Linked DNA regions of Homo sapiens. The protein of the gene in region 1 interacts with the protein of each later gene in a pairwise test. Each region holds a gene or a part of one and is shown in the gene's direction. Other genes may lie near its edges. The genes, in order: CSRP2 and KAT14.

Evidence for each region.
Region 2: the proteins of CSRP2 (region 1) and KAT14 interact in a two-hybrid assay, tested with the Homo sapiens proteins (one study listed by BioGRID).

What each region holds. Positions count from the first base shown.
Region 1 is NC_000012.12:76,872,473-76,887,805, reverse strand, and holds the start of CSRP2 (cysteine and glycine-rich protein 2), read left to right. Parts: upstream 1-8,786; 5' UTR 8,787-8,867; coding exon of another isoform or gene 8,868-8,868; exon of another isoform or gene 8,869-9,136; intron 9,137-9,155; exon of another isoform or gene 9,156-9,447; intron 9,448-9,523; exon of another isoform or gene 9,524-9,638; intron 9,639-15,333.
Region 2 is NC_000020.11:18,130,230-18,146,097, forward strand, and holds the start of KAT14 (cysteine-rich protein 2-binding protein), read left to right. Parts: upstream 1-7,633; 5' UTR 7,634-7,726; coding exon of another isoform or gene 7,727-7,822; intron 7,823-7,841; exon of another isoform or gene 7,842-8,325; intron 8,326-11,978; coding exon of another isoform or gene 11,979-12,128; 5' UTR 12,129-12,431; coding exon 12,432-12,690; exon of another isoform or gene 12,691-12,940; intron 12,941-14,869; exon of another isoform or gene 14,870-15,003; coding exon 15,004-15,122; intron 15,123-15,868. Other genes in the region: protein PET117 homolog, mitochondrial precursor, read left to right, coding at 7,727-7,822, 11,979-12,128. UniProt on the Homo sapiens protein: Component of the ATAC complex, a complex with histone acetyltransferase activity on histones H3 and H4. May function as a scaffold for the ATAC complex to promote ATAC complex stability. Has also weak histone acetyltransferase activity toward histone H4.

The sequences.
Region 1 (15,333 bases):
TCCTAAAATTTTAGTGTACACTTTTCAGACTTTTTTATAGAGTATATTTTTACAGATAGAAAAATAGGCTCATGGTATACATATGATCCTTTTTTGATACTGAGTCTCGCTCTGTCGCCTAGGCTGCAGTACAGTGGCACGATCTCAGCTCACTGCAACCTCCGCCTCCTGGGTTCAAGCGATTCTCCAGCCTCAGCCTCCCAGGCAGCTGGGATTGCAGGTGTGTGCCATCATGCCCGGGTTATTTTTGTGTTTTTAGTAGAGATGGGGTTTCACCATGTTGGCCAGGCTGGTCTCAAACTCCTGACCTCAGGTGATCTGCCCACCTCGGCCTCCCAAAGTGCTGGGATTACAGGTGTGAGCCACCGCGCCTGACCTGATCCCTCCCTGTTTGCACAGCAATGTAACATGATGTTGCAGACACTACACACAGGGTCACTTAACACCCACTGACTCTTTGAACAAGGCTTCCTGTACTCCAGAGGCTAGACAGGTAAACATTTCTAAGACTCTCTTGCAGCTTGAGTTCCACACATAACATAATTTCCACCAAGCCCTAATGGAAGATATCCTGAGCCAGATTTGGAAGGCAAATAAGCAGCACAAGGGGCTGGCATGGTCAAGGATGGCGGATCTAGTAGCTGAAGTAGAAGGTCTACTCTCAGGCCCTAGCATAGTAGATGTTAAGAGGCAAGTATAGGCATCAGCTGTGCCACTCTGGCGTCAGGCACTGATCCTGACTCTATAGCACCATTTTTCTCCTTGCTCTTCTTGTACTTTCTGTTATCTTCCACTAAGAACCCTGATGGATACATGTGACCACTTTCCTTGTCAAAAAATATGTGACATACAATTGCTACTAGTGGAATCATAGAATCCTAGAGCTGAATGGGACCTGAGTGATCAGCCAGACTTAGGAAAATTAAGCTTAAAGAAGTTAAATGACTCATCCGAGGCAAGACCACATGTACATCTCCCCATTCCCACTCTGTATAAGGAATTTATACCAACGTTATGTCCCAAAAAGGAGGTGGGACAAAATGGCAGCCTGGCTGTTCTCTAAGTTAGAGTTTGGTATTTTTGTGTTAGCATAATGTAACATGCTCATCCATCATCTGGCAGGCTTTAGCCCCAAGAGGATCATCAAAATGTGATGCCCTTTAAATGTGTTTGTGTCTTCTTGGCATCCACCTCATGCCACACCCCTACCTTCTCTCAGCAGAGGCCCCAACCCCAGCCCTCCTCCCCTGGTTCAAGACCAGCTCGGATTCTGCATGGTACTCTTACTTGTCTTAGACTTCATCTTAGTCAGCTATGCTGGGGAGGTCTCCTCAGATTGGAAAGATTTATGTTCGGTTTGCTGAAAGACTTGCTCCCAAGGAGCTATCAGTCTTTTAGTGTCTTTAAGCAAAGGTACTTTCTTCACTCTTCTAGTATAACAGGAAAGGATCATTGCTAAAAGGCCACGTTCTGCAGTGGAAAGAGTGTGAGGTTTGGATCCAGACTGGATTTGAATCCCAGTTCTGCCACTTACTAGCTATGTGGCCTTGGACAAGTTATTCAATTTCCATGAGTTTCACTTCCCTCACATGTCAAATGGAAAGAAAGATAATCACCTTACAAGGACAAGAAAACAATATTCCTACATGTTTAACATGCAAGGAACATTCAGTCAATAGTCATTGCTATTTGGTTGAAACACATGTTGGCTTGAAGAACAGCCAATGGCGTGTACTTTGACCCTTTCTCATTTATAGTTTTTCAGCTGAATTTGGATGGATGATCACTCCACGATAACCCAATACCCTTCACAGAGGATACAGATCATTTTGCAAGTCTGTGTGTGTGTATGTTTGTACATACACATATATGTACGTGTGTGTACTTATATATGTGTGCACACATACACACACACACCACACACACGGTATTTGAGCTCATACCCAGCCACTAACAGGTCAGTGGAGTTTGGTTCTGCAGTAGCACTCTGAACTCTTACAATTGAAGTGAACACAGGAACAAATAAATCAGCAGCTTGAGTCTTTGTTTGTTTGTTTGTTTGTTTTTTGAGACAGAGTCTCACTCCATTGCCCAGGCTGGAATGCAGCAGCTTAATCTTGGCTCACTGCAACCTCTGCCTTCCAGGTTCAAACAATTCTCATGCATCAGCCTCCTGAGTAGCTGGGACTATGTAGCTGGGACTACGGGCGTGCACCACCACACCTGGCTAATTTTTGTGTTTTTAGTGGAGACAAGGTTTTGCCATGCTGGCCAGGCTGGTCTAGAACTTTTGGCCTCATGTGACCCGCCCGCCTCAGCCTCCCAAAGTAATAGCTTGAGTCTTTAAACGTATAACATCATTTAAGAATTAGGTATGGGAATTAGGTTCCCACAATCTTTTTGAAACAGCAGAAGTAAAAACTGTTTAAAGTAAAATCTAAGCCAGCACTCCTTAAAAACATGTAAATACAGGATTTATACAAGCTTTTTTTTTTTAAAGGCATTAACCTTTTTCCCATAGCTTAACACTGTTCTCATGAGGTGAGAGCTACAGACGTGACAGTTTGTATTTTCTTTTACAAGAAAAGTTTTATTTTATGAATGATTTTTAATCCCGTATGTGAGGATTACACAAAAATCCTGGCAGGCATATGCCATAAATGATTAACTGCCAATCAATTATAGCATTATGTATTGTTTCCAGAATTTCGTTCTTGACATCATTTCCCAGAGAAATACACAGACACACACACGCACACTGTTTTAAGTGGAAATTTTTATGAGGTTTTCTCTGGAGATGCTCAATGATCAAGATATATATACGGAAACGTCATTAACTACATTTAAGATAAAATATACACTTAATTTTTAATTCCTGAATAAATGGATGGATGAGTATACATTCATTCATTCATTCATTCGTTTATTTATTTATTTTGAGACAGAGTCTTGCTCTGTTGCCTAGGCTGGAGTGCAGTGGCAGGATCTCGGCTCAGCACAACCTCTGCCTCTCAGATTCAAGCAATTCTCCTGCCTCAGCCTTTTGAATAGCTGGGACTACAGGTGCGCACCACCAGGCCCGGCTAATTTTTGTATTTTTAATAGAGATGGGGTTTCACCATGTTGGCCAGGCTGCTCTCAAACTCCTGACCTTATGTGATCCACCTGCCTCGGCCTCCCAAAGTGCCAGGATTACAGGCGTGAGCCACTGTGCCCAGCCTACATTTATTTTTATGTAATCTTTAGCAAGGATTTTGGAATCTATGTAAAAGTTAGAAAGTAAACACATATATATATATTTATAAAATGGTATATCTTATCACAAGTGAGATAATAAAAAACATTGTTTAACGCATCCTCTGTTGCTCACATTACAGTTTTTTAGGGGAGAAACTAAGCTTTCTAGTGGTGGTAGCTTTCAAAATTTCTTTCCATTTCTCATCAGAACAGTAGCTAGAGACAGAAGTTAACATTTGTGAGAAATTTCAGAAGTGTCATCCTTCTAAAATATTTCATTCTGTGCATGTATACACAATCATATGTTTACTCAATGTTGTCCAATTACTAAGAGGTCAAGTAGGGTAAGGACTGAAAAATAGCAGTTGGGGGTTTGGCAATTAGGAACTCTCCAATGACCACAGTGAGAGTCTCAGTATCTCTAACGAGGTTGCAGTCAAAGTGTCAGCCAGGGCTGGAGTCATTTCAAAGCTTGACAGTACTGTACTGTAATATCTCCTTCCAAGCTCACTCATATTTTTGTTGGCAGAAGGCTTTAGCTCCTCTGGGACTGTTGGCCACAGGCCACTGTTCTTAACTGCTTGAGTGTCCTCCTGACATGGCAGCTGGCTTTCCCCATAGCAGTGATGAAACACACACACACACACACACACATGTTGGCAGGATGTTGGAGATGGGGGAGGATGGATAAAAGAAAAGGGTGGGGGAAGAATGAGGAAAAAGTTGTCACAAAGCGTTTTTTGACTTAGTCTCAAAATCATGCACTTCATTCTATTTTCTAGAAGCAAGGCACTAAATCTAGCCCGCACCCAAGGGTAAGGGCATGAATTAAATTCTACCTGTTGAAGGGGGGAGTAACAAAGAATCCATGGACATGATTTTAAGCCATCACAATCTGTTGGGAGTCCTAACTGCAAGTAACAGAAAATCCATCTCAAAATGGATTAAACAGCAATGGGGACTCATTGGCTCCCATAATGAAAAAGCCCTGCAGGTAGGTAAACTTGGTGAATACTTGTTCAGAGCTCTGTTTTCTCTGTCCTCTTGTCTGTGTCAAGTCATCCGTGGCCAGGTTCCTAGCAAAAATGACTGCAACCACTCTAAGGCCTCCTCCATGCACATAGCACATTCCAGAATAGGCTAGCTTGGCTCTGACTCCGCACCCCAGCAGAGTTCTGAGATTCACTCTAATTGGATGGGCTTAGGTCACGTGCTTACCATCCCCAAGCCGGGGCCTCAAATGCCTTGACTGGATCCAGTGCTCCACCCTGAAACAGGACCATGAACTCACATGCCTGAAACCACACAGAGAGGAATGGATGCTACAGAGGCAATCACAAATACCTACTACACGACTCAGGGATATTTATGTCAGCTTTTAAAAATACGGGGTGAGCAGAATTTTTGTCATTTGAAAGGAAAGAAAGCAATAGAGCCTGAAATTGAACAGCAAGGGAGTACAATCACGTGCCACATGAAGATTTTCAATCAACAACAGATCACAAATATGAGGGTGGTCCTGTAACACTACAATACTGTGTTTTTGCTGTACCTTTTCTATATTTAGATATGTTTAGATACACAAATACTATTGTGTTGCCATTGCCTGTGGTGTTCTGTACAGTCACATGCTGTACAGGTTTGTAGCCCATGAGCAATAGGCTATACCTTAGGCCATATGGTGTAGGTTTGTGTAAGTATACTCTACAATGTTGGCATAATGGTAAAATTGTCTCATGATGCATTCCTTAGAACCTGTTCCCATCACTAAGTGGCACATGACTGTATAACTAAAAAATGCCAAAGAAATGGATCAAAAGCCTAGGCAGAGTGGACACTGTTGGTAGGGAGTGGGAGAACCATTTGCTCCTCCAAGATCAGGGACAGCAAGTACAAACATAGGAGAAAACATGGAAGCTTCGAGGCAAAGTGGAGGAAGGTTGAGGAAATGTTGGTGACTGGCTGTGAATGTGAATGAAGGAGAAGAAGGTGATGTCACCAGCTGAAAAAGAGGGAGAAAAGTGAGATAAAGGAATTAAGGGGTTAAGATAAGATGGATAGAATATGCTGTCTGGGAAGTTAATGGTGTCTTTCTTACTAGTAGAACTAGAAAAACTCTGCTATAATATGAAAGCAGAAGCAGAGCTCAAAAAGATAGAAAGCTCTGGTTGAAAAGAAGAAATAAATAACATCATAATAGAAGATAATAGCACTGAATGAAAATAATGCCTACTGGAGAAAGAGAGTTAGGAAATGAAGCAAGTATAAGAAAGTAGGAGTTTATAGCAGGTTAAAAAAAGCAACTATGACAAATATCAAGAATAAGATACTCTAATCTACCTTCCAACATTTAAGCATATATCACTTACATTATTCTTTTCTCTGTCAGATAATAAATCACAGAGTATTAGGGTTAAGTATGAGTAATTTTTAATTCCCACAACTGCTGCTAAATCTTAGCTAAGAAATAAGGTAGAAAAACTGCTTCTTTTTGTGTTATTAAATGTGTAGGTTAGCAAAGTGCAAATTGTTTCCCTTTTTTTCATACTAAAATCATTATAATAAGACATTCCTCTTCACTATAGCTTTCTTGCCTTCTGGGAAGAAAGCCTTGCCCTAAAATAAAGAGGCTTTGTGTTTAAATTCACATTCATCTGATTCAGAGTTTTGTTAAGAAAAAGGGGCATGAAATAAAAATAATAAAAATATTTTTAAAATCTACGTTTGAAGCACAAGGTCATGACAAAAGGCAACAACCTTGGTTCAACTTGCCTTAGGACAGTGACCTTGAGAGAGGGCTTTGATTTGAAATTGGTTGATGAATTCCAGAGAATAGAGTTGTTACAAGTATAATACACATTTTGAGTGGGAAAAAGAAATAGCCTGCTGGACACATTTAACCTTTGATTCTGCCTATTACAAGGTTGAAGGGGTCAAACAGACTAGGACCATGTGGACTTAAGGGTTTATCCTTCTCCTTGAGGACACATTTTTCCCACTATCCTTCTGCAGGCGCGCAGATGCTTCCTACTGAAGACTCTTAATTGTTTTGGAAAACACTCCATACCTTCTTAATAGCAAGCCCTCAAGAAGGCAACATGAGTACTTAGCAAAGCACAATTTTATTTCTTTCTTGAGAGGCAAAAAGGACATCAAGATATCTTTGCTTAACATAACAACCATCAATTATTCAGTATTTACCATGTGCCAGGTGCTATGTTTGGCATTTTACATACATCACCCAATTTAATCCTCATAACAACACTACAAGATGTGTAGAATTATCTTTTTACAGATAAAGAAACAGATGCATAGAGGTCAAGTACTTAGCCCAAGCTTACAAAACTGATAGGTGGCAGAGCTGTATGTTGAAATCATGTGTGTTTGATTCCAAAGCCCATACTCTTTCTTTTGCACCACTCTGTCTAAAAACTCTTAAATAATTTCTTCATGTTCATAACTAAAAGAGTCAACAGTTTAAATAGATGTTTAAAGAAAATAAATATTTTTTAAATGTTGATAAATACAAATACAGATTTGTTCAAAATCACACGTTGTATATCATCTGCAGACTCAGTGTGAAGTACACGGAGACAAACACATACAGGGACAGACAGCAGAAACACTTTTAGGTCAGAAACAAGCCCAATTTCTTTTTTGTTTTGTTTTGTTTTTTTGAGACGGAGTCTCCCTCTGTCACTCAGGCTGGAGTGCATTGACGTGATCTCCACTCACTGCAACCTCCACCTCTCAGGTTCAAGTGATTCTCCTGCCTCAGCCTCCAAGTAGCTGGGATTACAGACATGTGCCACCACGCCCGGCCAACAAGCCCAATTTCAAATGATAAGACATGGCTATGGAATTTAGGGACAACATGAGCTTGACGGAAAGCAAACAGCTCAGGTTTGGGAGGCCCCTTCCACAAAGAGGCATTGAGAAGAACTCAGGGTAGGAGAGAAAGGGCAGTGGTTTGCTGCAGTGAGACTCACTGATACAGTTTCATTCAGTAGAAGCACTAGGCAAACTTATACAAGAAAAAATAAACATTGTAAGCAGCTGAGCTAAAGCGAATGTAGAATCTGAGGGACTGAATTTTCCTGTTGGCCCGTGAGTCAAGTCACTTACACTAGCTGATATCACTGAAATAAGGATTGCCCATATTTAGAAAAGCTCACAGCAGGCAAGAATGCTTTCCAGACTCCTGCCACAGTATCAGGAGATGTCAATCACCACTATGTGTTTTTGGACAGTACTTGGTGGACAGAGAACAAGGCAGCTATAATGAGTTTATCCTGGATTGGCCCCAGCATATAAAATAAAACAATAATAATATTATAAGTCGGTTCTGTACGTTGTCATGCGGATATGTGCTCCCTGCCCTCTCCCCAAGAGGGCATTTGGCAATGTCCAGAGACTTTTTGATTGTCACAACGTCGGGGGCAGGTTGCAACTGGCATCTAGTGGGTGGAGGCCTCCTACAATGCACAGGACAGCCCCCTACAATAAAGAATTATCCAGCCCAAGATGTCAATGGTGTGGAGGATGAGAAACTCTGGACCAGAGGAGGCAATAGCATTTATGGCATGAGGGGGTTTTGGTCACTGACTTTTTTGAACTCCCCACTCCGCAAGTATCAGTTCTCCGGGATCATTGCTTCTGGCAGGAGAGGTCATGAGGAGGCCTAGAATATGAACCAGATAGAGATTGCATTGTTTATTTTCCTTTTCATCTAAAACAATAAATCATCCTGTAGCTTAGGCATTAGGTCCCTTCGGATGTCACGGTATCCTTGTGCTTTTCTGACATCAACACATATAAATACAGGGCCTGTGGCGCCCGGGGTTTCTGCCTGGGTTTAGGTTTCTTCCCCCTCAGCATCGCGTGCTGTGCCCTGGTGGAGGGGAAGAGCGAAACACTTTGGGAATGGGGCGTTTTCGTAACGTCATTTATTTAGTCTAGATGAATTTTGCTCTTTAAGAATAAGAAGTTGTGGATTCCCAGAAGCTGGAAATCGGACGAGAGAATATGCGTTAACTAGGGAAGTTAATCACGTTGAGTTTACTGACAAGGACAAGGCAAGGGGGAGGTGGCGGAAAGCCCCGTTTGGCTGACTTTCTACTGCTGGAGCCTCCCGGCCCATGACTGTCTCCGCGAAGAGGGGGATCGGCGCTCGCGGTGGACAGGTCCGACGCAGGGCGGCGGGGGCCACTTTCCAGCGGGACCGTCCCGCCGCCGGGCCTCCCTGGAGGGGAAGGAAGTCCCTCTCCAAGTCCCAGTGGCTTTTGGAACTGCCGGGTCCCTTTGGGAGGGAGCGGTCCCGGGACGTGGGAAGATGCCGGGCGGGCGGGAAGCTGCAGGAAGAGGCGGGCCTCCTGCCTTTTGTCTCCTGGTGGCTAGCCCGGAGCGGGCAGAGGGCAGCCCGCCCGCTACACGCCCCAGCCCGGCAAGCGGCTCCGGGAATCCGGCGGGCGGGGCTGGGAGGAGGGCGGGGCGGACACAGGCCGCGCCCACCGAGCGCTCTTTAAAAGGCACCGGCGCGCGCTTCGCCTGGGATCTCGGACTCCCTGGACCCTCCCTCCAGCCCAGCCTCGCTAGCTCCGCCTGCGGTACGTGCTCCCGCCTCCGACTCAAGTGAGTAGGGGCGGTGGGGCGGTTCCGCGGCGCCGCCAACCCCGGGGCGGGAGTTGCAGGGGGTTTCCACCGCCTCCCGGGGTCGTGCTGTCGCCCGGCCGGCGCGCCCCGGTCTCCTCCGACATCCCCATCCCGGTCCGCATTTGTGCCCCTGCCAGCCTTCTCATCCCTGCGCCCCAGATTTTCTCTCTCTTATCCCCCAAACACACCTGCCCTTGTCCCCGAGGCCGTCCAGGCCATGCCCTGGGATCCCAGGCCCGCGGGGCAGGTAAATAATCTTATATGACCTTTAATTTCTCCATACTGGTTTCTCTGGGAGAGAGGCGGGTTGTGAGTTTCGCGTTTCTGCTAATCCGCCTCTTAGCAGCCGTCGGTCCCCTCGTCCAGCGGCAGGCTCTCTCTGGGGTGGGGGTCGGAGTCTCAGGGCCCCCTCTGCCCGGAGTGTGGTGAGCACCGAGGGCGACCTTACTGGGTTCTGTCCCCTAGGGGTGGAATGGGGCTTCTACATCCCCCCGAGCCCAGGGTACTGCTCCTGCCGCCGTACCGGGCTCCTGGCATCCCCATTGTTTGGTGGTGTCTGCCCACCCAGCACCGAACCCCTCTATGTTGAAGGAACAGCAGGGAATGTCAATCACTTACTCCTAGCTTTTTCCAGAACTTTCTACGATTCAGGTACAAAGAAGAATGCAAGAATGCTTGGTTGTGAAATTATGCGACAGGTCCTGCGAATCACATTCTGGGTTCTCCAGAGCCAGATTCAGGAGCTCCACGTAGGCACCCCCTGGGGGCGGGGGCGGGCTTTCTAAACCGGCGGATCCCTTTCCCCCTTCTAAGCCAGGACATTTGTTAAACGATTTTTACTTAAATGGCTACCCAAAATGTTTAACCTGTTTTATTTGCAGTCTGCAAACCAAGCACATTTTCCCTTTATAAATGCTTTTCGGTACAGAATTTTTTTTGGGGGGTGGGGGGGTGGGGCGGGGGCAGTTAGTAATTTTTTAACCCGGGCAGCGAAAATCGTCGTATTTAGTTCTTGACTTTTCCAATTAACCTGTTTTAAAACTCTCCTCATAAAATGCCAAGAATTCAAATAGGACAGCCACAAAGTTGGCTGTACTTTGACTCACGTTTTTCAAGAAAGAATTGGGTGATAGATTTTGAAAGGGAGAATCTAACATAGTTTCAGAACTGCATGCCAAGCTACAAAGAATGTTGTGAAGTACTAAGTGGTCTCCCCCAGTACTCCTGGGGTCATCGCTCTCGTCCATTGTCACTGATACTTTGTCAGTATTTCTCTGGGTCCTTTCTCCTCTGCATTGTAGTTTTCTTTGCTCTTTTGGTTCTGTGTTACCTTTGAGACCAGACCTGCATCACATGAGTCTTTGAAACTCACAGTGCTTGCTTGGGTACCTTGGACAATTGACTGAAAGAAGGAGCGAATAAGGTTGTGATTATAGGGAACAAAAATATAATTTGACTCACACAATAGGTATTTGTTTGCAGATTTGATCTAAAGTTCGTATCATAAATTTTTAATGCATTTCTCCGAATGTATTTAACAAATATTGATTGATACTGGTATAGGCTAAGTACTGTGCTGAAAGCAGTACTTGCTGGAGGCCTGTCCTGATGAAATTGCAAAATCACTTGGATTTGGGGGAGATTGAATTTTATCCTAAAACAGCAAGAATGTTGGTGTAGAGTAGAGGACAGCAATAAATGAGGAGTTTTAGAAGCCTGAGTCCAGAGGCAACTCTGACACTAAATTGCTATAGTGATCTGGGTCTCTAGGTTTTCTTCTTTGTCAAAAGTGAGGTGAATCAAATGAACCCCAAAAGGGAGCCCCCTATGGGAGAGGAGGCATGGCTGAAAGGGGGAGGAACGAAGCCAGGCAGGACCAAATTCACACCTCAACTCCAGTACCCATTGGTTTGATGCCCTTGGGCAAATTAACTTTACTCTTTGGCCTCAATACTTCATCATGTAAAATGGGTGTAGTGGCACATGCCTTGCAGGGTTGTCATAAGGCCTGTTGATACTTGTACAAAGCCCAGCCCAGCCTGGGAGTAGTTCCTTGTAATTAGACAAAGTTGTGCACTTGGTTGAATATATGTGGGAAAAGGCTATCAGTGAAAGTCTGTTTCAGGAGAGAGCTGGCTCACACCTGAAGAGCGTTTCCTAGACCTTGCCTGGAGGCCAGCTTTCTTCTCTGTGCAGATGTTCACAGGTTTCCTCAAGGCACCTTACCCTGACTGCCAGCATGCCATCCCTTGGGTTCTGTTGGGTGGGGATCCCCAGACACCTCTGGATCTTTGATTACCTAGGTGGGGTTTCTGACTTTTTATATCATGGCACTCCTGTGAGGCCTCCAGACCCCTTCTCAAAATGACGTAACATAAAGTATGTGGTACCAAGTTCCCCAACCCCCAGAATTAAAAGGAATTGTGGCCTTTGGGTTAAGAATCCTGAATTAAGGGAATATTTCTCAGTCTGGATAGTGGAGAAGCTGGGCACAATTTCTTTTTTTTATATTTTTTCCTTTTCAAATTCCTTTTTACCACAGGCACAATTTCTGATTGTTAAAAATTTTATTGTTGTAAGTCACAGAGGAAGAACTAATAGAAGTACATGGTGAATGATCTGGAAAGGATATCAGGTTCCTTGTTTTTTTGTTTACAATCTTATTGTGCCAACAATACTATTGTCTTCGACTAATAAGAACAGACACCATGTAATACATTAGGGCCAAATTACTTCCCAGTTCACTATAGGAAAGAGGGCTTCATGGTGGTTTCACAGTACTTCCAAAAGAAAATAAGCAGAGAGAATTGAATCCTCATCCAGCACACGGCAGTGCAGGAACTACTCAGCTTAAGAAGAACCTATGCCATAGCCATGGAGGTCGGTACTACATCTGTATTGCTACCAGGGGTTTAGTTTAGCAAAACATCAGTGAAATAATTTTGAATTGGAATTTTATTGGTATTCATTTTTAAGTTGAATTGATAATTTTATTTTGGTTTCACAGTTATGAGTCATTTAATAGCTCTATGCCTCAGTTTCCCCACTCATAAAATGAGAATAGTGGTAGTGCTTACTTTAGTTGTTATGAGGATTAAATGAGGTAATATAAACATAAGTAAAGCATATATTAAGCTTTATAGAAGTATTTGTAATTATTACCTGTCATGTGGCAGACACTATTCTAGGTGTTTTGCATATATTGTTTAATCTAAAAACTGCCTTATTGTATAAATAAGCATTGTCCCCATTTTTAAAATGAGAAAACTAGCAGATCAAATGAACAACCTGTGATCATTTGGCAAATAAACAAGAGTCTCAGCATATATATCTAGGTCTGATTCCATGAAAAAATCGTGCAAATATTAAATTGTTTGAATAATTAAATAACTTGTAGTTTTGCACAGATTGTGGATTGCTATGGCAGATGTTGGGGATCAGGGTTACTGAGCTTATAGCATAGTTGCATTTTAATTACAATATGGGATTTGGCAGATAGTGATTCAAATCTGTGTCGAATTTTGCTGCACTCTAAGTTGAAGACACGAGTGGTAGCAGAATACAGAAGTAGTAAGAATGGTGAGGCTGAGGTACACACAGGAGTGTTCACTAGATTAGAAGAGAGTTTTCCTTCAGTGGGGTTAGATTTAGGTTAGCAGAGAGGGGTAATAAAAAGCTTTTTGGTTGAAAGTAGCAGTTTGGGTGTGAGAGTGGTGCACAGAGACCACTTACTGACCGCTAGTTGGATGGAGAGGAAGGTGTGTAATTTGTGTGTGTAATTTGGTAACTCAAGGATTGAGAATTCTCAGGTCATTTGAATAGTCTCAACCCTTAATGTTCTGTGCCTGTCAGATATGGGAGTTTTGAGGAAAGCTTGTGGTTCTGGAATCAAAACATGAGCCTGATTTGTTTCTTTGGAGATCTGTGACCTCAGCAAGTCACCCAACTCATCAGTCCCCATCCTTTTTGGCACCAGGGACCAGTTTTGTGGAAGACAGTTTTTTCATGGATGGTGGGTGGATGGTTTTGGCATGAAATTTTGGGATGAAACTGTTCCATCTCAGATCACCAGGCATTAGATTCTCGTAACGAGTGGGCACCTAGATCCCTCACCTACACAATTCACAATAGCGTTCCCGCTCCTATGAGAATCTAATGCCTCTGCCGATCTGACAGGAAGCAGAGCTCAGGTGGTAATGCTCGCTTACCCTCCACTCACCTCCTGCTGTGCAGCCTGGTTCCTAGCAGGCCACAGACCAGTAGCAAGTAGCCTGAACACAAAACACAGCCATCGGTCTGTGGCCTGGGGGTTGGAACCCTTGACCTAACGGACTGAACTTGGTATATTCAGGCCCCGAGTGCTCCTAAAGGAAAAGGAAGCCCGCCCATTTGTGGAGTACAGGCTCTTTGCCAGGTACTTTACAAACTTTATCTCATTAAATCTTTACAACCGCCTATAAGATAGTTCTCATCCATTTCCAAGTTACCTCTGAGGAAGTTAAGGCTCAGAGGTTAAGGAAATTTGGCCAGGATCACATAGCTGATAACTAGCTTTGACAACCAGCTTGTGTCTATCTGATTCTAAGCTCCGCACTGTTTCTTTTATATCTGGCATGTCTAAAAGGTGGCATGTGTACTGCGGTATTTCCATGGCAAAAATAATTAATCACAGTTCTCTTGATTGTAGAACCTGGACTGAATTTCAGAATCTTTCTCAACGTAGTTCCAGGAATCCACTCTCAGTGGATCTGCAAGATGAAACTGTTTTGTCATGCCTGTGAAAGTAAATGGTGCAGACCTTCAAAAGCCCTTTTTGCATGCCTCTGTGTCATTTATTATATTGCTATTGTTTGTCCACATGTTTTTACCACCTCAGTAGAACTCTGTGCAAAACGGGCCTTTCCTTATGACCCATTTATCCTCAGCCCCCTAACCCAGTACCTGGCTTATGAAATACTGTTGAATTAATACATTTATATGAGAGCTTCATAAACAGTAAAGCATTATGCAGTGCTTATAAGCTGCCTCTACCCTAGAAAAATTACTTGAGATACAGAAATGAAGTTAGCTGGATGGAACGGAGGTAAGGCAGTTGCCTTGATGGGGAGGGTTTGGGGGATAAGGAAGGAATAGATATGTGAGATGGTAGGGCAAGATGAGTATTGATAACAAAGGTTAGAACATTGCTAAATATTGATACTATCATTTGAGTCCCCACTATGCAAGCGTTACCTCATCTATAACTCTATAAAGATGGTACTGTTCTTAACTCTCTAAAAAAGGTACTGTTGCCCTAAGTTTACGGATGAGAGAAATGACACTTCGTGGACTCCAAACGCGTGTTCTTACTTTGCCCTTATGCTGAACTGACTTAAAGGCCAGGTTGAGGATTTGGCTTCAGTAGGAGGAGCCAAATGGAGTACGGAGCTGATCACTAAGACATGAAGAGTTCATCCTTGGTTCAGTGGTATTCACTTCCGTAAGAGAAGTAGACTAAGTGGGTAGTTGGGGTAACAGAAGAAAAAATTTGTAGAACAGGCATCAACTGAAAGCTTAATTTCCAATTAACTACAGCTGTCAAATCCTGGTCTTGCTAAAAAGTCATCGTAACGGGACAGTGCTACTAACTTACATTCTTTAACAAGTGACTCCCCCTGGATGTGGCTCAAGATGAGACTGTATTTTATAATAAATTCTCCTTTAGGGGAAATTGGATTATAGTCAGGTTCTAGTGTAATAACAAGGCCCTACATGTAGTAATAAAATGTCAAAGCTTCTGGAGGCATTTAGAATCTGGGCAAATATAGAATATAGACTAATTCAATCCAAACTTTTAGTTTCAGGGCAGATAACTTAAACTTTAAATGGTAACATATAGATTTGAATTTCATAGATTCAAGTCATTCTGATTCTAAAGTAAGACAGTAAATGCGGCACTAATGGTATGAGAATGGCCCAGGTAGTCAGCTCTTGATTATCATACGGCTCTGATGAGTGCAGGAACACAAGGGTTCTTGATCCTGCCGCCGGTTTAGATAAAACAACACGGACACACGTGGAGTGGTTTTAAGGAGCGGAGAGTTTAATGAGCAAGAAGGAAGGGAGAAGACAGAAGGAAGAAGCTCCCCGGTACAGAGACACAGGGAGGGGGGCTCCAAAGCCCAAAGAGGAGGTCCCCACCTGCAATGGATACCAGCCTGGTATATATGCAAAGACTGGAGGAGGCGATGTCTGATTTACATAGGGCTTAGGGGATTGGTTTGACCAGGCATGTCATTCACGTAGCCCAAGAAAAAGCTGGCCCTCACACCCTAGCTTTTTAGTATGCAAATGCAGGGCGCCATGATGTTCCACACACGTGGGGATATGTGGAGGCTGCCCTGTCACCAGGCACAGGTGGGGCATTTGCATGGCCCACATGGCCTGCATTTGCATATCAAAGGT
Region 2 (15,868 bases), on another chromosome or scaffold:
GAAAGTAGAATAGCGCTTACCAGGGGCTAGAGGGAGGGGAAATAGGGAGTTACGTTTTAATGGACACAGTTTCTGTTTGGATAGATGAAAAAGTTATGGAGATGAATAGTGATGCTGGTTGCACAACAGTGCAGGTGTACTTAATGCCCCTGAGTTGTACGCTTAAACGTGGTTTACCTAGTAAATTTTATGCTATGTGTATTTTACACAACTTTAAAAAGATGAACTATGAGTTAAAAGCATTGGGTAAATAAGTAGAATTTCAAAAAAGCATTTAAAAAATTGTTTCCAAGTGTACTTTTCCAGAGTAGACTAGATACCATTGAAGTAAGAGAGACCCATCGATTAGAAAAGAGATAGGAAGGCAAATGAAATTAAAATGACCAGAGTTTAAAAAGGATTAGACAGAAAGTAATAAATGTGACAGGCAGGCACAGGAGATCCAATAGGCACATAATTCATGTCCCTGAAGGAGAAATTTGAATAGAACAGAAAATGTATTTACAGATGTAATTTAAAAAATTTTCCAGAGTTAAAAGTATGAATCTAAAAATTGAATGGGTACCTCGTGTCCAAGGAAAATAGACTCAAAAATATATTCTTGTAAAGTTATTGGACTTCAAAGATAAAGAAAGTATGCTTTAAGCAACTATGCAAAGTAATTAACTAAAAGGAGAAAATTAGACCGGCCTCCAAGTTGCCACAGCTATATTTGATATTTGAGGACAGATGGGTAAAGTCTATATAGTCTTCATGCAAAGAAAGTGTGACCCAAGAAATTTTTACTCAGCTGAACTGTACTTCAGGGACAAAGACAACACAAACATGTTTTTTTAATGTGCAAGAATTCAGGAAATATAGTTTCTACAACACTTTTTAAAAGATTCTAATAGAGGGTAGATGGAGAAAAGACACAGAAAGGACTGGTGATGACCATCAAATCCATTTAAAGATGCAACTAAGATGAAAACAAGCATGGCAATTATGGTTAAAGAACAAAATGTAGGCCAGGCGTGGTGGCTCACGCCTGTAATCCCAGCACTTTGGGAGGCTGAGGCAGGTGGATCACATGAGGTCAGGAGTTCGAGACCAGCCTGGCCAAAATGGAGAAAGCCCATCTCTACTAAAAATACAAAAATTAGCTGGGCATGGTGACAAGCCTGTAATCCCAGCTACTTGGGAGGCTGAGGCAGGAGAATCACTTGAATCTGGGAGATGGAGGTTGCAGTAAGTTGAGATTGAGCCACTGCACTCCAGCCTGGGTGACAGAGTGAGACCATGTCTCAGAAAAAAAAAAAAAGAGCAAAATATATATGTTATAAACTCTGACAGTGAAGGAGTGATATAACCAACAAAAGTTGAATGAGAAAGAGCAGAAGATAGGAAATAGGTCAAGTATGCTGGTGATATAGTTTGGCTCTGTGTCCCCACCCAAATATCATGTTGAATTGTAGTCCCCATTGTTGGAGGTGGAGCCTCATGAGGGGTAATTTGATCATGGGGGTGGTTTCTAATGGTTTAGCACCATCCTCCAAGTGCTGCCTCATAGTAGAGTTCTCACAAGATCTGGTTGTTTGAAAGTGTGTAACACCTCCCCTTTCTCTCTCTCTCTCTCCCTCTGCTGCCAGCCACGTGAAGATGTACTTGCTTCTCCTTCACCTCCTGCCATGATTGTAAGTTTCCTGAGGCCTCCCCAAGCATGCTTCCTGTACAGCCTGTGGAACTGTAAGTCAGTTAAACCTCTTTTCTTTATAAACTACCCAGGCTCAGGTAGTTCTTTATAGCAATGTCAAAACAAACTAATACAGCTGGTTTCCTGAATGTTTAGAGCTGGTGACCAGAATATATTATTTAAAGATGGTAAATCAAGCACAGAGGTCTAAATATATTTAAAGGCATAAAGGTAAAGCTTAAAAACAATCTAATCCCTAAGTTGGGCGGTATGAAGAGAGGATATATGCTGATTCCATCATGTTTATGGAAAGGAGTGAAAAAGGCCGGGCACGGTGGTTCGCACATGTAATCCATGCACTTTGGGAGGCTGAGGCAGGTGGATCACTTGAGGTCAGGAGTTCAAGACCAGCCTGGCCAACATGGTGAAACCCTCTATCTGCTAAAAATACAAAAATTAGCCGGGCTTGGTGGCATGCACCTGCACTTCCAGCTACTCGGGAGGTTGAGGTGGGATAATCACTTGAATCCAGGAGGCAGAAGTTGCAGTGAGCCAAGATCGTGCCACTGCACTCCAGCCTGGATGAGTGAGATCCTGTCTCAAAAAAGAAAGAAAAGAAAAGAAGGAAGGAAAGGAAAGAAAGGAAAGAAAGAAAGGAGTTAAAAAAATACTCTCAGGAAGATCCTAGGAAAAAGTGCAAACCATGACAAGAGCATCTAACTGTATTGCAAACATATGAAACGATATCACTGAAGGGGTGGAGGGCAAAGGTGCTGATTTGGTAACTTTGGAGTAAATGAGGTCTATAAAGCCAAAAGCAATAGGAACTGCAAAAAAGCATGGTACTCTAGTAGGTAAAGTTGTTTCCCACAAAAAAAAAATGACATATAATTATGAGGTAAACAATTCTGAAACTGCTATACATGTACACTGGAATCAAACAATTGCGCAAGTGGATGGTGGAAAATGGGAGCCTGAATTCTCACTGATGGAGTAGGAATTTACCAATAAAAAAAGGAGGTTAGAATAATCCATCTGGTAATGGACTAGAGTTGCAGACATCAGCAATATCTCACATTTTAGTCAATATAGATTCAGGTGATTACATATAGAAATATTTGCAGATATGTAACATACACAGATAAGTATACACACATATATTTATGTGCTTTGTCAGCTGAGAGGGCCCAAAAGAAACAAAGCCCCAGTAGCAATAAGCATGCCAGGACCTATATCTTGGATTCCAATATTATTCTACAATAAAAAGAACCTTGGATTCTTGGAGAAATGGCAGATTCTGAGACTTGGGCAGGAAATATACAAGATTAGCTCAGAATATTGTGCAGTGTCAGAAAATAGACAAGTGCTAAACAAGAAAAACACACATTGATGAGGGTCCGTCAGAGAAGCAGAGGAGCTGAAAGATCTCCCAACGGCCAAAGCGGGAGCCATCTGAGCAACAAAATAAAGTAATATTGGATTATAACCCAAAGTATAAAATAAATACCCACCAGTCCACACTGATAGAAACAAATGATTGAATCAGTTACTAAATGGGAGAGAAGAGACAAACCTGTGCAGAATTTCAGATTACTTATATAGATACTGCATTGAATTCATGGTGATTAATTCCAGTACCAGAAGAAAAACTGGCTGTTTTGGAGTTCCTGAGAAAATATCTATTTTCTTCAACATGTCACCTTCCTAAAATGTTTTCAAGGGTAGTTTTAACTGTTTTTGACTTTTTCCTTATGTGCTGACTTCAGAGCCTCAGCCTGAAGAAGGTGGGATTTCGTGGCCTTGTCTGCCTATAGAGCCCACTACAGGGCCATACACAAGGCAAGCCTTCTTGCTTGCATTTAAAATAGTCATAATGGTGCTTTATGCGGTGCCATGTGGTGTGATGTTTCTGTAATCATTTAGTGCTGAGACTGATAAATTTATCAGTCACTGGTGCCAGTTCAGCTGACACCCTCCACCTTCTTCCCAAACAAACCTCCTCCTTCCCACCTCCTCCTTCTCTCTCAGCCCCAATGATGACAAGCTTCTGATCATTGCCTGAAGCCTCTGCCTTGACCTATTGCATTCATGCCCACCATCAAGCCCAGTTTAAACCCGTGCCTCCTACTGATACCTCCTGCTAGGGTACTAGTGATTTACTATTCTTTAAGACAGAAGTGACCCGAAACCCAGCTCTCCCAGGATAGCTGCCAGGACCTGGCCATGATTCAAGCCCAAATAACATAAGCCAAATTACACACTCAGTGAGGAAGGCATTTTTTTCAAGTCCCCACCCTTGTGTGAGTGAAGGTGGAACAAAGATTGTGTGACCATGTTGTTCAAACACAGGAAAATGACTGCATTCCCTCCCCTTAGTTTTCATTTGTTGATTCTTCTCCAAGCCCTGACTTCCAACTGTACTTCTTTTTTGATGCTGCCTCTTGCTTAGAGGATTCTGAAGGGAAGGACAGGGTAGTATGCTGTTCTAAAGAGTATGGGACTTTATCCTGTAGGCATGGGGAGCCACTGAGCGGTTTTTAAGGTGGTCAGCTTCCTATTTTTGTCTTTGGAGGTAAGTTCACTCTGAAGGCCAGCCAATGGCAGGGCAAGGCACCCACTGTCCTCTCCAGGAAAGCAGTGGCCATTCTGGGCACACCTAAGTCAATCCAAAGCTGAGAGGGGCAGGAACTGATGTGATCTTAGGATGCCGAGACACTAGAATATAGCCAGATACACAAGGTTCAGATGTTCTGGCCTTACAAGCAAATTGTATTAAATCAGCCATGCTTCCTAAGCTTCGTCCCACCTTGGTAAACATAAAAAATAAGGATATCTGTACAACTCACTGGGATCAACTTGCGTGAGCTTGGATAATTCTAAAAGGAGCTTCATGGATAATAATTATTTACATTTCCTTTATATGGTACTCTTATAAAAAAGAAAAAGAAAAACAAAAAAATAAATGACATATAATTATGAGAAGAAAAATAAAAGCAAATCTTGGGGTAGATTTAAATATCAACTTTGGGTAAAATTTCCTGATAACATTCTTCTTGGAGTCTCTTTTAAATATCAAGTTTTGTGTTAAAAATAGTTCCTGATCATTGCTCCTGCACATAGTTCTTGATCAAGATTTTTTTTTTTTTTTTTTTTTTTTGAGATGGAGTCTCACTCTGTCACCCAGGCTGGAGTGCAGTGGTTTGATCTCGGCTCACTGCAACCTCCACCTCCCGGGCTCAAGTGATTCTCTTGCCTCAGTCTCCCAAGTAGCTGGGATTACAGGCACCCACCACCACACCTGGCTAATTTTTGTATTTTTAGTAGAGACGGGGTTTCATCATGTTGGCCAGGCTGGTCTCGAATCCCTGACCTCAAGTGATCCACCCTCCTTGGCCTCCCAAAGTGCTAGGATTAAAGGTGTGAGCCACCACGCCTGGCTGATCAAAATCTTTTTAAATGATCATCTCTTTAATTTTTGATAGTTACCATGGAGAAAAAACTTTTTTTTTTTTTTTTTTGAGTTGAAGTCTCACTCTGTCACCGAGGCTGGAGTGCAGTGGCTCACTGCAACCTCTGCCTCTCGGGTTCAAGCAATTCTCCTGCCTCAGCCTCCCAAGTAGCTGGGATTACAGGCATGCGCTGCCACATTTGGCGAATTTTTGTATTTTCAGTAGAGACGGGGTTTCACCATATTGGCCAGGCTGTTCTCGAACTCCTGACCTCAAGTGATCCACCTGCCTTGGCCTCCCAAAGTGCCTGGAATACAGGCATGAACCACCGTTCCCAGCCAAAAAGCTATTTGATACAAGAAGTGATGATAAAATGTAAAGCCATCGGCTATGAACCAATGGGAAAAAAAAGAAAAAAACACACAATAAAAAATCAAAAGGAAATAAAGACAATAAAAGAAACAAAAAAGAGCCATTTTTTTTCTGTTCGTATAGTTATGTAAGATTTTGTATAGAAGTGTATCATGCATGTATGTGTGACCACACAGCCTTGGTGTGCCACTGGACCAATTTTCACAAACACCCAGTACCAGCACCCAGTACTAGAGTTCTAGATCAGCCTAGCCAACATGGTGAAACCCCATCTCTACTAAAAATACAAAAATTAGTGCAGCCTGGTGGCTCAGGCCTGTAACCCCAACTACTCCAGAGGCTGAGATACAAGAATCGCTTGAATCTGGGAGGCAAAGGTTGCAGTGAGATCACCCCACAGCACTCCAGCCTGGGCGACGGAGTGAGACCCTGTCTCAATTAAAAAGAAGAAAAGAAAAGAAAAAGAAAAAAATAGTTGCTTCTCAGTTTGATGATATGCAGTCACTCTCACAAATCAGTAATTTATGCGACAATAATCACGGAAAATATACTGCTTAGGCTTATAAATATTTAAACAGATAAACATACTTTTTTTTTTTTGCAAGACCTCCCTCAGTCCCCCAACCCACTTTTTTATTTGACACAGTTAATAATAAATGATTTCTTAAAAGTAGAATACTTTTTTTTTTGCTTCTAGTATCCTGAAAATAAAGAAAAGAGTACATTTCAAGAAAACAAGTTGAAAAATTAGTCACAATAAAATGAAAGGCGATTGATCTAATTCCCTGATGTACACTCTAAGGACATACAGCTCTGTTGAAGGCTCACTGATTTACAGGGGAAAATATCTAGGATATACCACGAATAAAAAGAAGTCTAATATAATTTTTAAAGAGAAATATGCAAATACACCCTGAACTGAATTTCTTCTCAAAGTTCATTACAGCAAGAACTCCATTTTCCAATTCAGTGGTACATTCTCTCTAGGCTGCAAAAAATGCTGTGGACAAAATGACATTTGGAAAAGGTATCTTTAAAGATACCTTTAAGAGCAATAGTCCCCTTATGCCATTTACGCTCACATAAGAGACTGGAATAGCAAAGCACTATGAACAGTAATGAATGTTGTAAAACTCCCTGGTGAGGCTTAATCAATACTGCCTATAGCCGTGTCCACCGGAAGAAGCTCGTTCTCTGTGAATTCTAGTGGGAAAGAATGATTGAATGATGAACACGTTTTCACTGGTTGCTCTATCAGATACTTAAAAGTTTCTGGGAGGCCTTGCCTTTTTTACCCGAGGAAGAAGTGAAAATGCGTCTTGCACAATTGCTTAACTATTCCCAACGCAAGACTTCTTTATATCATTTATTTCCCTTGTATTACTGGCGCGGAAACTTGGGTGTAAAAGTGATCACAAAGATTACATGGGGCCAGGCGCGGTGGCTCACGCCTGTAATCCTCTCGGGAGGCTGAGGCAGGAGAATCGCTTGAATCCGGTAAGGTTGCAGTGAGCCGAGATCGCGCCACTGCACTCCAGCCTGGGCGATAGACAGAGACTCTGTATCAAAATTATAATAATAATAATAATAATAATCCGAGCCTGACCAGTCGCCCCACAGCGTCAAGGTGAAACCAGGTGACCGCGACTACAGCGTTTAATAATGGGTCCTCAGGCAAAAACTCCACGGATGGGAACCCCGCGCCTCTGAAGCTGCCTAACGAGGCGGTCTCCTGGTGGCGCCTGCCCCGCCAAAGGAGCAATGAGGGGGCTGCGTTTAGGCGAAGCCGGTATTGGGCGAAGCTTCTGGATCAGTCAGGGGCTCAGAAGGGACGTCTGTGGGAGAGGGGTCAGCACGGTATCCAGACCCCGCCCGGGGTGAGGTTGGTACTGAACTGACTGAGGGGCATGGAACCCCCACCCTCCACCCTGGTAAGGTGCCGGGGCCAGTTTGGGCCGGGACTCCTAGAATTTGAATCGGGGGTGGTCTAACGCTGTCGCCTGCGGGGTGTGCAGGAGGCCCCTAGTGAAGCCAAGAGTTCGTAGAGCCTGGGCGCCGCTCTATGCTCGGCTCTCGATTGCTCACGCCTGGCAGCGGCGAGCGGCGCACGCGACGGCTGGGGCTCTGCGCTCGAGGGGTCGAGCCTGGGCAGTACAGGCGGCGGTGCGCACTCTGCGGCGGCCTCTGCGCCTCGGGCGGGCGGGAGAGAGAGGCCGCGGCCGCCAGCGTGGGGATGTCTAGGAGCTCGAAGGTGGTGCTGGGCCTCTCGGTGCTGCTGACGGCGGCCACAGTGGCCGGCGTACATGTGAAGCAGCAGTGGGACCAGCAGGTCGGTGTCACGTGACCGTCTCTTCCGGGCCCGCGCGCGCGGCGTCGACCTGGGGCCTCTCGTGGTCTCTGCCCGCTCGGTTCCTCAGCTCCTCTTCGTGTCTTTCCCCCGCGGTGGCGCGGCCCTGCACCCCACGCGTTTGCGGCTGCGGCCGGCGGCCGCTCTGCTGGGCTCCGGGCGCTGCAGCTCCCGGCGGGCGTGTGCAGCCCGCAGATTCAGGACGACCCGGCTGCCCGGCTTAGCGCCTTTGGAGCTCCGCGCTGAAGGGGCCTTGCTCCGCACAGGCACGGCACGCAAGCTTTTGGGGTGCCCAGTGGCTCTGTTTTCAAGTCACAGCCGGCCCGCAGGGTGCGGACCTTTCCACATCTCACTTGGGCCGCTAGAAAATAGAAGGTGGGGAAGGAGTTTCTTGGGGTGCATTCTGCAAGCTACCAGCCTCCCTCCTGGCCCAAGGTTGGGGTTAAAGCCTAATGTGTTTTACGTGCTATTGATTTTATCCCATGGTAAGGGAGCCCCCCTTCCCCGTACTCACTCTCCATGCCTTTGACCAAGATAATTTGGTGAGATGTTTGCACTTCTCGTTTAAATGAACAGTTTGCTATGGAAACTAGAATCTGGGAACGATAGAGATAACAGTCTCCAGATTTTTTTTTTTGGTACTTTTATTTCAGGAAATATCCGTGACCTGCTGATCAGCAGTGACTATTCTGTCCTCTCAGTTCATATTTTCTTTCTTATTCAAGTTGACAGACCTTTAATGGGTGATTACTGTGTGGAAGCTACCTCACTAAGCACCTTGGGAATACAAAGATAAGGAAACTCCACTCTTCCAGAGTCTATCAGTGATTCACGACCTTGCTGAGAACAGGGTCATTGGTGAATTTTCAGAAAACAACTTGGCAGTGATTGGGGTTGAACCTAGTTCACCAAGGGTGAAAATAATGGACTGGATGAATCAAGAGTAAACAGTCTTTTCTTGATTTGCCTACCCAGACCTTTGGACTGTGCTATGTGCTTGATATACAGAGATGAAGTGGATGAGGTCTTTGTTCTTGGTGTTCACAGACTGTGGAAATTAGAAGAGAGGAAGCATGTGATGGTACAAGAATTTTGACGAGGGGTTGAGATGACTTAACAATGAAAGGGCACAGGAGAGATCAGAGATTTGGGATTAAAATGTGCTCCTAAGGGGCTGGCTTTTGGAATAGAGGCAGAAGACTTCCGCCTCTTACAAGGAAAAGTAAAAGATGTTGATCCTGGGAAAACTTGAGATGGAGTAAAATTTAGTATGACAGATGATCTGACGTCAGTGAAGTGATGTTTGAAGGGTTTGGGTAGGGATGGATTAGAGCTTGGCTTTGGACCCTAACTGAACATCAAATGTTCCCGGAAAGTTTTTACAATGTGACTAAGGCTTGGTCCCCACCCCAGACCATTTAAACCAGAATCTCCTGGGGATGGGGACCTGGTTCAACAATGTTTTAAAAGTAACCCAGAGAATTTTAACACAGGACTAAGCACCATTGTGTTACAGAGTGGAAAAGTGGTTATTTGGAAGTTAGAGCTGAAGAACCAAAATAACGTGTGTGTGTGTGTGTGTGTGTGTGTGTGTGTGTGTGTGTGTTTATTTTTTTTCCTTTTATGTCCGGTTCTTCATTAGGGGCTTACATTGTATTAATAGCAGTGGGAAAGACTAGGACAAATGATTAGCACAGTGGATGTGTCGGAAGGTTCAAGGAAGCAAGAAATTAAATAATGAATATTGATTCCTGACCGTCTACCACATACCAGGCAGTGTATTAAGCACTTTATGTATATCATCTGTAATCCTCACAGTAACCTAGCAAAAATTAAGCAGTGCTACATGAGGAGCCAGAGTTCTAGGTGTTAGGGTTGGAAGAATAAAGAGGTCTTTAGTGATTAGTAAGGAAAGTTGTTAGAAAGGTAGTTCAGTGAGGGTCACAGGAAGGATGTGTGAGGCAATCAGCATAGACCTTGAAACCTAGAGGAAGATAGCAAATGATGGGATGGAGAGCCAGATCATAAGCACACGTGACATCTCTGAGAAGGAAGGGTAGGATCTGGGAGGCAGGTGTGGAAGGAATGATTCTGGTGAATGGTGTGGGCTTGGGAGGGTGGGTATCGGTGTGTCATGGTGTAAGAAGCACAGGACAGGAAGACCTGCAGTTGGGGGAGTGGAATAAGCACCTCCGTTTTTGTCTCAGTGGTGATCTTGCCAAGGGTGCATGGTTCAAGACAGTTGTGTTTCAGTTGAGTTATATCAATCCCGGGACTCCTTCAAATCCCTCATAATGAAGCTGTAGGCCTGGAGGAGGTCCAGCAAGTAGGTATTATATTAGGTGAGTTTTTAAAAATAGGTAAAATAATTTGGAAAAAACCCCACAAACATACGCAGGCCCTGGGCCCCACTCCCATTAATTCTACTCTATATAGCCACTATTAAAAACCATTTATTGGCCAGGCACGGTAGCTCATGCCTGTAATCCCAGCACTTTGGGAGGCTGAGGCAGGCAGATCATTTGAGGTCAGGAGTTCGAGACCAGCCTGGCCAACGTGGTGAAACCCCGTCTCTACTAAAAATACAAAAAAATTAGCCAGGCCTGGTGGCGCACGCCTGTAATCTCAGCTACTGGGGAGGCTGAGGCACAAGAATCGCTTTAACTCAGAAGGTGGAGATTGCAGTGAGCTAAGATCGTGCCATGGAGCCAAGATCTCCAGCCTGGGTGACAGAACGAGACTCCTTCTCAAAAAAAAAAAAAAAAAACCAATAAAACAAAACAAAAAAAACCCTATTTATTTATTTTGAGATGGGGCTTGTTCTGTCACCCAGGTGGGAGTGAAGTGGCACAATCTTAGCTCACTGCAGCCTGTGCCTCCCAGGCTGAGGTGATCCTATCACCTCAGCCTCCGGAGTAGCTGGGAACACAGGCACACACCACCACTCCCTGCAATTTTTTTTTTTTTTTTTTTTTTTATTTTTATTTTTGCTAGAGATGGGATTTTGCCATGTTGCCCAGGCTGGTCTAGAACTTCTGAGCTCAAGCAGTCTGCCTGCCTTGGCCTAAGATTACAGGAGTGCTGGGATTACAGGAGTGAGCCACCACGCCTGGCCTAAAACCTTTAGAGTATTTTGTGAGCAATAAACTATAAAATGTTAGTTATTAGTAATGACTGATGTTTTTAAAAGTCTCTTCTTGGGTGCCAGGTCCACGTTCTGAAGTGCTGTGGTTTTTTAGTGCTTACTAAGGTAACTACCATTGATGAGCATTTATTTTTTCCGCTGGTAGTAGCATCCTTCTTTTTCTTCTTTCTCTGTTATATAATTAATTAATAATTCTGCATGATTTTTACATTGTTAACTTTACATGCTAGAAGCCAAGTTGAGATTTTAGTAATCTGCATTTTTTCTGTTGGTGTTTATTGTTCAGCTAGGATAAGTGCTAACAGAAGAGTAGTTTAGAGTGTTACTGTAGTAACTCGCCAAGTTTTTAAAGCATTACATATCAATTAAACTTTAAAAATTTAACATTGGCCGGGTGCAGTGGCTCACGCCTGTAATCCGGCACTTTGGGAGGCTGAGGCAGGTGGATTACTTGAGATCAGGAGTTCGAGACCAGCTTGGCTGACGTGGTGAAACCCCGTCTCTACTAAAAATACAAAAATTAGCTGGGCATGGTGATGCACGCCTGTAGTCTCAGCTACTCGGGAGGCTGAGGCCGGAGAATCACTTGAACCCAGGAGGTGGAGGTTGCGGTGAGCTGCGGAGTGCAGCCACTGCACTCCAGCCTGGGCGACAGAGCGAGACTCTTGTCTCAAAAAATAAATAAAAAAAAATTTAACATAGTGCCAGTTTTTTTTTTCTGTTATTTCCCATTAAATTTTCTGTACTAAATGTTCAGGAATTTCTTAAAATATGATAAGAAATCATTTCAGTAATAACATTTAGCACACTACCAAATTTATTTGATCGTTTATTACATTTTACATTTGTACAGAAAATTAAAATAGTAACTGGGTATTTGGAATCTGAAAGTTTTAAGTATATTTTGGTAACACTGTTATTTGGATTTGAATGGCACAAGGATGGGGACCACCTGTTCGGGATGTTACTGAAATCTGTTTCTTACGTTTTTAGAGGCTTCGTGACGGAGTTATCAGAGACATTGAGAGGCAAATTCGGAAAAAAGAAAACATTCGTCTTTTGGGAGAACAGATTATTTTGACTGAGCAACTTGAAGCAGAAAGAGAGAAGATGTTATTGGCAAAAGGATCTCAAAAATCATGACTTGAATGTGAAATATCTGTTGGACAGACAACACGAGTTTGTGTGTGTGTGTTGATGGAGAGTAGCTTAGTAGTATCTTCATCTTTTTTTTTGGTCACTGTCCTTTTAAACTTGATCAAATAAAGGACAGTGGGTCATATAAGTTACTGCTTTCAGGGTCCCTTATATCTGAATAAAGGAGTGTGGGCAGACACTTTTTGGAAGAGTCTGTCTGGGTGATCCTGGTAGAAGCCCCATTAGGGTCACTGTCCAGTGCTTAGGGTTGTTACTGAGAAGCACTGCCGAGCTTGTGAGAAGGAAGGGATGGATAGTAGCATCCACCTGAGTAGTCTGATCAGTCGGCATGATGACGAAGCCACGAGAACATCGACCTCAGAAGGACTGGAGGAAGGTGAAGTGGAGGGAGAGACGCTCCTGATCGTCGAATCCGAGGATCAGGCATCAGTGGACTTATCGCACGACCAGAGTGGGGATTCCCTCAACAGTGATGAAGGAGACGTGTCTTGGATGGAGGAGCAGCTGTCCTACTTCTGTGACAAGTGCCAAAAATGGATACCAGCCAGTAAGGAGCTTCTCAATTCCTTTGATTTGTCAATTCCTGTGTGAAGGTTTGTTTTTCCAACCTGTGAAAGAAACGTGAATGTAAAAGAGACCTAAATAAAAGGATAATTATATTTATTCTCTAGTTGATCAGCTATAAATTTATATAAAACATAGGCATGTTTGTACTAATGAAACGTACTGTCAACCTCTATCACATTGTTAAATTAACACTTTTGGTGGTAACTCAATAAAATTGAGAAAATTGGAAATCCTGTGTTACTTAAAGAATTAGCCATATTTTTCTAACAAGGTCACAGAGATTTAGGGCCAAATTCCAGTCCCAGTGTTGAATTCATGTTCAAGTTTATAAAAATTACTTTGTTAATATTTAACTTACGTGGAGAACTCCTGCTATTGTATACTGAAAAGAGGTTAGAATTAGCAGATTGAAGGTGTTTTTTGCCCTTTTTCTAGGACCAGTCTTTTTTTCCATTTTCCTTTTTTTCTGCTGGCAAGAGATACCTCATACACACTCCCTGATTGCCTCAATCTTGAGATTTTCTTTTCTTTCTTTTTTTTTTTTGAGATGGAGTTTTGCTTTTGTTGCCCAGGCTAGAGTGCAATGGCATGATCTCGGCTCCTGGGTTCAAGCGATTCTCCTGCCTCAGCCTCCCAAGTAGCTGGGATTATAGTGTTTGCCAGCACACCTGGCTAATTTTTTTTTTTATTTTATTTTTTTTTTTTGAGACGGAGTTTTCCTCTTATTGCCCAGGCTGGAGTGCAATGGCATGATCTTGGCTCACTGCAACCTCCGTCTCCCAGGTTCAAGTGATTCTCCTGCCTCGGCCTCCCGAGTAGCTGGGATTACAGGCATGCGCCACCATGCCCGGCCAATTTTGTATTTTTAGTAGAGATGAGGTTTCTTCTCCATGTTGGTCAGGCTGGTCTCAAACTCCCAACCTCAGGTGATCCATCCGCCTCGGCCTCCCAAAGTGCTGGGATTACAGGCATGTGCTACTGTGCTCGGCCCTGATCTTGAGATTTTCAATGGCCAGCTTCCTGGCACCTGAGGAGTATGGCTTGCCAGCCATCATATGGTTTATACCGAAACAGGATTTTCCCATTAGGCAAGAGACTAGTAAAGATATAGGTACTTGAGGAATGCCTTTGTGTAATATAATTTGTAACCAAGTCAGAGAAATACATATATAACTGTGAAGAGGGTCATTTTCTGGCATGTGGAAATGTTTTTCTTAAAATGGGTTCAACTTCAAATTTAGTCACTGTTAACAAATTAATAGTAACATTTTCACAGGAAATGCAGAATTTACTAGTTAGCTGGTTTTTGCTTCTGAGCGGTCTCTGTTATTGATTTCAGGTTCTGCCTGAATTCTCAGTGGCTTTCCCTTTGTCCTGTTGAGGACAAATTTTAAGCTACCCTTTGTGGTCAGGACCCTGCTAACTGTAGTTTCTTTGATTCCCACACAACTTTGCAGTTAGGGTGAACTTATTCTTCACAAACAATTCTTATCCTTAGGGCTTTGCACAGTTTTTTTCTTCTGGAATATGCATCTCCACAGCCTCCATTCTCCCTATACACAAAGAGACCCCTTTTCACCTGGCCAATTTCTAATCCTAAGCCTCCCCCTAATATAGGTTGGGCCTCCTTTTATTTACCCTCACACTGCCCTGTGGTACACAGCACATTCCATTCCTTATGTGTCACAGAGCATCAGCATCACCTGAGGGACTAAGAAATGTAACTCCTAGGCTCTGCTTCAGAAATTGATGCATTTTATCTGGGCTAGAATCAAGCATATTTAGAAAACCAAGAACAACTTGGGTGATTCCAATGCACTGTGAGCATGGAGAACCACTGTGTTGTTGTGATCACCTGTTTTCTATGCAGCCCTCAGGGAAGTGCAAACCTGTGAGATCAGGCACCATTATCTGTCTTGGACTTTGTATTCCCAGTTCCTAGCCCAGTGCCTGGTATGCAGAGGGAGCTCATATTTTTTGAAAGAATGTGTGAAGAGACCTGCCTCTGGGAGTCAGGAATGTGACAATTGGGAAATCCAGCAACAATACCTGCTTTTCCAGTACCTTTCTCCTAAAAGTTACTGGATCCTACAGATCTTAGTGGGCGTATACTTGGTGTTAGAAGAATAGAAATCTTTCTAATTCCCTTCCTTTTCCCCATTTTGCAATTGTGGGTTGGCTGAAGAAAAGAAGACAACATGGGAAAGGAAAATCTGGGTGATAAACGGATTAAACCTTTAGGTTACCGCTGCTCTAGATAAACCCATGATGTGACTTTTTGTTTTTCTCCTAGGTCAGCTGAGGGAACAGCTCAGTTACCTTAAGGGTGATAATTTTTTTAGGTTTACTTGTTCGGATTGCTCAGCAGATGGCAAGGAGCAGTATGAAAGGCTGAAGCTGACATGGCAGCAAGTGAGTAAAAAGCCCTTCCCCAAATCCATGAGGGTGGTTCCCCCAGGAGTTTGTTGGAACGAATATCTAGAAACTTAGGGATGAGCTTTTGAGTTGTTTGGAGGGGCACTTTTTATTTCGCAATGAAATTAGATACCGAATATGTGGAGAAGGGAGTGAAAAATACTCGCTGTAATCCCAGCACTCTGGGAGGCCAAGGCGGGCAGATCACCTGAGGTCAGGACTTCGAGACCAGCCTGGCCAACATGGTGAAACCCCATTTCCATTGAAAATACAAAAATTAGCTGGCTATGGTGGTGGGCCCCTGTAATCCCAACTACCTGGGAGACTGAGGCAGGAGAATCGCTTGAACCTGGGAGGCGGAGGCTGCAGTGAGCCCACACCGTGCCACTGTACTCCAGCTTGGGCGACAAAGTGTGACTCCTTTTCAAAAAAAAAAAAATATATTCACTGCTGACTTGGTGAATTGGGCTTGAGAGGCTTGAGAATCTCATGATTTCTTTTATATGTGATACCAAGCTCTGATTATAATTGAAAATGAAATTCTCATTTTCCTGGCAGCCATTTTAAGAACAATAAAACTATTTTTTTAAAGTGGAAAGATGGCTATGTTGAAAATAGATTTGGAAGAAGGAAGGTGACTGATTGCAAAAACCAACATAACCCAGCTTTTCTGCATTTGAACTCGGAGATGTTTGAATTTTTGTTTGCTGAAATACTTGTTCCTTTTTAACTGTCTCTAATAT